2 linked regions of the Homo sapiens genome follow. The protein of the gene in region 1 interacts with the protein of each later gene in a pairwise test. Each region holds a gene or a part of one and is shown in the gene's direction. Other genes may lie near its edges.

The links.
Region 2: the proteins of SNX9 (region 1) and OCRL interact in binary tests that used the Homo sapiens proteins (3 or more experiments, as listed by UniProt).

The regions. Positions count from the first base shown.
Region 1 is NC_000006.12:157,896,232-157,899,983, forward strand, and holds part of SNX9 (sorting nexin-9), read left to right. Parts: intron 1-595; coding exon 596-767; intron 768-3,752. UniProt on the Homo sapiens protein: Involved in endocytosis and intracellular vesicle trafficking, both during interphase and at the end of mitosis. Required for efficient progress through mitosis and cytokinesis. Required for normal formation of the cleavage furrow at the end of mitosis.
Region 2 is NC_000023.11:129,571,173-129,574,924, forward strand, and holds part of OCRL (inositol polyphosphate 5-phosphatase OCRL), read left to right. Parts: intron 1-3,752. UniProt on the Homo sapiens protein: Catalyzes the hydrolysis of the 5-position phosphate of phosphatidylinositol 4,5-bisphosphate (PtdIns(4,5)P2) and phosphatidylinositol-3,4,5-bisphosphate (PtdIns(3,4,5)P3), with the greatest catalytic activity towards PtdIns(4,5)P2.

The DNA.
Region 1 (3,752 bases):
CGTATTTCTCAAATTGCATATACTTTTATTGTTTGAATTTTTTTTATTATACATGTATTCCATTTCAAATTAAAAAGCCTACTTAAAAATACAACAGATCGCTATAAAGCAGTTAGAAATAGGTCCTCATGTTGAGTGGGAAAAAGAAAACTTGCAAAGAGATACATACAGTATGACATCCTTTAGGTCAATTTTAAAAATATAAAGCAGTTGTTTGTGAATGTGTACATGTGCAGCTGAAGTATGAAAACACACATAGGAATGGATACAGGTTCAGAAAAGTAGTGGTTACTTCTGGAGAGAAAGAAAGAGAGGGCTGTAGCTGCATCTAATAGTTTCTTTGTTGCTGTTTTCAAAGTTCCTAAGCAAATACGGTAAAATGTGTTCACATCAGTAAAATTAGATTGATGCTACCTTTTGTGCTTTCCTACATGTTTGGAAATTAAAATATTATGTATGTAAAATTGTTTTGAATACATTTCTATTAATTGTTTTTAGTACTCCTGTTGTATTCAATTGTGTCAGTTCATTATTGAATTGAGTCATGGTTTCCAAAAGTCACAAAAATTCTCCTTCTTTTTACCCCTCTCAATAGGTTGGCAGTGGCAATGACCCCTGGTCAGCCTGGAGTGCCTCCAAATCTGGGAACTGGGAAAGCTCAGAAGGCTGGGGGGCCCAGCCAGAGGGGGCTGGAGCCCAAAGAAACACAAACACTCCCAACAACTGGGACACTGCCTTCGGCCACCCCCAGGCCTACCAAGGACCAGGTGAGGAGAGGGGTGCAAGGTCCCACCCTGCCCGCCCATGGCTGAGTGGGAGAGACAGGGAAGACCGAACTGTTTTTGCTGTTCCCACACTCAGCACAACACAGAACAGTTTTGTGACCACAGCATGGGAAGGGAGGATTGCCCCACCCACCAAGCAGCTGTGCAGCAGACACCAGCTGAGTGTCCTACAGTCATGACACTGTCTACCTGGAGTCAGATCAAGGGGGTTCCCACCACTCCCACCTTGGGTTCAATTAATCTGCTGGAGCGGCTCACAGAACTCAGGGAAACACTTTACTTACTACTGTCAGTTTATTACAAAGCTCAATTTACAGGATGCAAATAAAGAGCCAGATGAAGAGATGCATAGGGCGAGGCATGGGGAAGGGACGCAGAGCTTCCATGCCCCCCTGCCCCAGGTGCCCCTACATGTTCAGCACCCCAGAATCTCTTTTCCTGTAGCTCAAGGATTTTTACGGCGGTTTCATCACATAGGCATGATCGATTATTGTTATTATTATTCTTTGAGACAGAGTTTTGCTCTCGTTGCCCAGGCTGGAGTGCAGTGGCACAATCTCGGCTCACTGCAACCTCCGCCTCCCAGGTTCAAGTGATTCTCTCACCTCAGCCTCCTGAGTAGCTGGAATTACAGGAGCCCACCGCCCACCGCCACACCCGGCTGATTTTTTGTATTTTTATTAGAGGCAAGGTTTCACCATGTTGGCCAGGCTGGTCTCAAACTCCTGACCTCAGGTGATCCACCTGCCTCAGCCTCCCAAAGTGCTGGGATTACAGGTGTGAGCCACCATGCCTGGCCGGCATGATTGATTATTAACTCAACCTCTGGCCCCACTTTTCTTTCCAGAGAATGGGAGGTGGAGCTGGAAGTTCCAAGCTTCTAATCCTGGCTTGGTCCTTCTGTTGACCAGCCCCCATCCCACCAGGAGTCACCTCATTTGAACAAAAGATGCTCCTACCACCCGGGAAATTCCAAGGGTTAGGAGATCTGTGTCAGGAGCCAGGGTCAGAGACCAAATATCAGAACAAAAGATACACCTTGCACACCTAACATTCAGGAAGTTACAAGAGTTTTAGGAGCTCTGTGCCGGGAACTAGGGACGCAGACCAGATGGCTATTTCTTACCTCACAATACCACTCTGGGTCATTGAGTTGAAAATAGATTTTATTCAAAAGAACTGCTTGCAGTTGCCCTTATTCACTAGTAGCAAACCTGGATTCAATTGTAGATGGTCATTAACTCTAACTTTAGTTCAGTCTTACTTATCTGTGTGAAGTCACAGATTCAAACGCTGGGTTGGTAAAGTAAAAGCAGAATGGGCGGTGGAGGCTGCAGAAGGCTGAGGGCCCCTGCTGTCGCCCGTGGATCACTGCATTTGCAGGGAAGCTGAGCCCACGTTCTGATCTCCACATCTTCAGAGAGATGAGAAGTCTTGGTTATTTGTCACCTTCTGATTTTAACATCTCAGCAGCTAACACGTTTGTTTTAAAATCTTGAGCCAGAAACGTGTATGTGGATGGGATGTGGCTCATCCTGCTGGTTTAAGACCTCTGCATTCACTGTTTTAACTTCCTGTTTGACTAGGCTATGAATAGAAATACTGAGGCAGAAGAGAAATGTGTGGAATGGGAAATAATTTGGGAATTAAGGGTATTTATGTCTGATCTGAAATTAAATAAGAAGGTAGTCTCCCATTATTTTTTAACAATTCCTGAACCCTGTCTCCTCTGTAAGCACATTGGGCCAAGAATTGAATGTCTGTTCTAAACAGCAAGGACCTCACTTGTAAGCCCAAAGCAGGGTGCAGGTCCCGGCTGAAGGCTGGCAGTCATAGACAGGAGCTGCCTGTCAGCAGGACCAGGGGTGTGGGCTGGGTAGAAGCGTTGGGAGACTCCTGGGGTCTGGCTCTCTGGTCACTTGGCCCACATCCTTCTCATAGTTTGTTCTTCTCCCATTTGGCATTTGTCTCTCGGCTTCTCCATAATGGCACTCTTAGGACCTGACACTAAAGGACACTCAGGCCGTTAGAGTAGGGGAGGAAGGAGAAGGAGGAGAGCCCACAGGGGAGGAAGGAGAAGGAGGAGAGCCCACAGGGGAGGAAGGAGAAGGAGGAGAGCCCACAGCACCTTATCTGACACGGGGATTATTGTCAGAATAGTAGCTACTGATGCTGCTTAATTACTTCTTCACTCTCATCTTTTTCTCCCACACCCCAACTCGGTCTTTTTAATGTCCCCCTCGTTGCCCTTCTCTCCCCTTTATTGTTAGTGTTAAACAGCTGCTTTTCAAAGTTCTGTCGTCCCTTTCGTCCTCCCCAAGCCTCTAGAATTAAAGGGTATTCTGCTTATTTGTAAATGTATAAGACTAGATTTATCAGTGTCTAGGCCTCTAGAAGTCTTTTCTACTGTGTACCACTTAACATTCTTACAGTCTGCATTTATCTGAAGTGATGTGGACTGACAGCCCTTTAAAAAAATTATCTATATTTTCACGCCTGTAATCCCAGCAGTTTGGGAGGCCGAGGCAGGCGGATCACAAGGTCAGGAGATCAAGGCCATCCTGGCTAACACGGTGAAACCCCATCTCTACTAAAAATAGAAAAAAAATTAGCCGGGTGTGGTGGCAGGCGCCTGTAGTCCCAGCTACTCGGGAAGCTGAGGCAGGAGAATGGCCTGAACCCAGGAGGCGGAGCTTGCAGGGAGCCAAGATTGCGCCACTGCACTCCAGCCTGGCCAACAAAGCGAGGCTCCGTCTCAAAAAAAAAATTATCTATATTTGAGGTATACAGCGTGATGTTGTAATATACATGTATATACTGAAATCATTACTACAGCCAAGCGCTTAACATATCCCTCACCTCACATGATTACCTAAGTGTGTGTGTGTGCGCGTGTATATGTGCAAGTGCGTGCCTGTGGGTGTGTGTGTGGTAAGAGCACCTAAAATCTCCCTCAGCAGGTTTCCC
Region 2 (3,752 bases), on another chromosome or scaffold:
CATCTAATTTCTAGTTTGTACTTGCAGGCTGCCCCTTTTTCTTCATTTGAATTCTCTTAATCCATTTTGAGAGGGTATCTTTCCTCAAACACTAACCTCTTTGGTTAGATCAGGTATGCCTGGCTTTTTTGTTTACATTTCTTTTCAAAACCTTCAGATTTTTTTGTTTGTTTTTGTTTTTTGTTTTTTGGTTTTTTTTTTTTTTTTTTTGAGACAGAGTCTCGCTCTGTCACCCAGGTTGGAGTGCAGTGGCACGATCTTGGCTCACTGCAAGCTCCGCCTCCTGGGTTCACGCCATTCTCTTGCCTCAGCCTCCCGCCCAGCTAATTTTTTGTATTTTTAGTAGAGACGGGGTTTCACCATGTTAGCCAGGATGATCTCGATCTCCTGACCTTGTGGTCCACCCGCCTCAGCCTCCCAAAGTGCTGAGATTACAGGCATGAGCCACCGCTCGCAGCCAACCTTGGGATGTTTTTAATACTCCATACACATTAATGCAGAGCTTCTAGTGGGATATTTACATTTTTTTTCAGGCTTCCTGTGTATTTATGTATATCTTTAATAAAGATATGCCTTTTGAGTTTTTAATGATTTTTAAATTATACAGCAATGACAAGTGCTTTTAAAAAAATTAAAAGGAAATTTAAGCAGAATTGACAGATAAGGCAGAAGTTCTTCAATCCCTGTTCTGTCTCCTACTCCCAACTTTGCCTAAACCCCCATTCCCCAGCCAGGCCACTACCCTTAGGAGTTTATATCTTTCTAGACCAGTGCTGTCCAATAGAGCTTTCTGTGATGATGGAAATGTCCTGTATCTGTGCTGTCCAGTCCAGTGGCTTCTAGCAGCAGGGGGCTATTGAGTACTTGAAGTGTGGCTAGTGCAACTGAGAACTGAACTTCTAATTTAATTTAATTTAAAGTAATTTAAATTCAAATTCCCTATGTGGCTAGTCACTATTGTACTGGACAGTGCAGTTCTAGACCTTTGTATATGCTTTTTTGTTCACTCATAGACAAAATACTGATTTGTGTGTGTCTCTATATCATAAACGGTCTTATATGTATGTGTTGGTCTGCAACTTGATTTTTTTTTTTAACTCAGCAGTGTGTCTTGGAGAACCTCCCATCTTATTACATAAAGACCTAGCTCATTGTACTTTTTTTCAAATTCCTAATTTTGTCAGTAATTTCCTTTACTAAAATGGATGTGTCAGGTTGTGAAATTCTTTGGGGTTCCCCCCCTCCTCATTATCTTTGATTTGCCATTAAGTGCTGTGATCATGATAACCCGCTGAGAAAAAGTTTGATTTTATTGAGTAATCACCCCATGTTTTGGATTCTTGGGCATGCTATGATTAGAGGCTTTAAAAACCACACTATATTTTCACCACCATTGGCACCAATGACTGTTAACAAAGGAGCCAAGTGCACCGTGGCCAATTAATTTCAGAAGACTTTCTGTGGGCTGGCTGAGATAGAGCTAGGATAGGGTTCCAACCCTGCACTTGGTACTGTGATCTGTTGCATTGGTTCTCAGACTTCAGTGGATGTAAGAATTGCTTAGAGAGCTTTAAAAAAAGTGTGGATGCATGTGTCCTCACCCCTAGAGGCTGTGATTAGTAGACCCAGGCAGCTGTGCTTTTAAGACATACTCAAGTTGATTCTGTCACATATCTAGTATATTGGAAAGAGTCTTAAACTAGTCCAGATGTCACCTTTGGTATTCACTGTAGCAGTGAGCAAGTTTGTTGATTGTTTTGTATCTTAATGTTCTCAACTATCGGAACAAAAATATTCCTTGCTTTGGTAGCCTTCCAGGTTGTGAAAATAAAAAGACATGTGCAAAATACTTTTGGAAATTAAAAGTTGCAAAGTTTTGTAAAAGTATAAAATTCATCTTAAACTAATGCTATACTATGGACCCTGGTGATGGTAAAGTGATTGTTTGATCCTCGGTTCTCTAAGAGTTACAGTTCAAATATGTGAAAAACTTCCCCAGTCTGAGATACTTGACTCAGCTTTGATGTTCTTATTTTCAACATTTTAAAAAATTTTTATTTCACTTCAAGTTGTGGGATACAAGTGCAGAACGTATAGGCTTGTTACATAGGTATGTGTGCCATGTTGGTTTGCTGCACCTATCAACCCATCATCTAGGTTTTAAGCCCCACGTGCATTAGCTATTTAACCTTAATGCTCTCCTTCCCCTCGCCCCACTACCCCGAGTGGCCTGGTGTGTGTTGTTCCCCTCCCTGTGTCCATGTGTTCTCATTCTTCAACTCCCACCTATAAGTGAGAATATGCGGTGCTTGGTTTTCTGTTCCTGTGTTAGTTTGCTAAGGATGATGGCTTCCAGCTTCATCCATGTCCCTGCAAAGGACATGACTTTTTTTATTTTTTGAGGTGGAGTCTTGCTCTGTTGCCCAGGCTGGAGTGCAGTGGTGCAATCTTGGCTCACTTCAACCTCCGCCTCCCGGGCTCAAGGGATTCTCCTGCCTCAGCCTCCCAAGTGACTGGGATTACAGGCACCCACCACCATGCCTGGCTAATTTTTTTTTTGTACTTTTAGTAGAGACAGAGTTTCACCGTGTTGGCTGGGGTGGTTTCGAACTCCTGACCTCTAGTGATCCTCCTGCCTCGGCCTCCCGCAGTGCTAGGATTACAGGTGTGAGCCACTGTGCCCAGCCTGATCTCATTCCTTTTTATGGCTGTATAGTATTCCATGGTGTATATTTACCACATTTTCTTTATCAAGTCTTATTATTAATGGGCATTTGGGTTGGTTCCATGTCTTTGCTATTGTAAGTAGTGCTGCAGTAAACATATGTGTGCATGTGTCTTTATAGTAGAATGATTTATATTCTTTTGGGTATATACCCAGTAATGGGATTGCTGGGTCAAATGGTATTTCTGGTTCTAGATCCTTGAGGAATCGCCACACTGTCTTGCACAATGGTTGAACTAATTTACACTCCTACCAACAGTGTAAAAGCGTTCCTACTTCTCCACAGCCTCACCAGCATCTGTTTCCACATCTTTTTAGAACCTTTGCTGCATGTATCAATTTTTTTTGACATGAATTTTTGTGAAATTTCCTAGTCTAAAAAAGAAACCGATATCTCAAGTTAAAATCTGTTAGTTATGTTAATTTTGGCATTGGTTTGTATGAAGTTTTAATATTTAAAAAAACACAGCTATATCAGGAAGCTGAAAGTGCTGTGTCAGGTGGAAAATTTTTTTATCAGTGGAGATGTGTTTATACGTTGTCATGGTTTTACTCTAGTCTAGGACATTTTGTTTCAGCCATTTTCTAAAATGGCTGTAGGTTCCATTTATTAATATATCTCTGCTATTATGTAATCTGAGCAGTGATATTATACTTCTTGGTATTGTACATAGAATCTAATAGAGTTAAAAGCTTTTTAATAATATTTGCTGCCACCTCACCAAGTTATGATTGTTAGAAACAGTAATTGCTGTGTTTTGACACTGTCATTTTGTACAGTGCAAGCAATCATTTTTACCACAATTATCACATTTTTTCCACTACCAAATAACTTAACAATGAAGCAAGAAAATATTCTTCCCAAATATTTATTATTACCAAGCTTCTTAACGTAGGGGTTTAACTTTTACAGGACGTTAGCCAATTAATCTTACCTTTACCTTAAAGCGTGTGCTTCTATAATGCTTTGTTCAATTTATGTTTGCTTTAGTGACCTTAAAAATTGTTAGAGACTCTTGGAGGTATA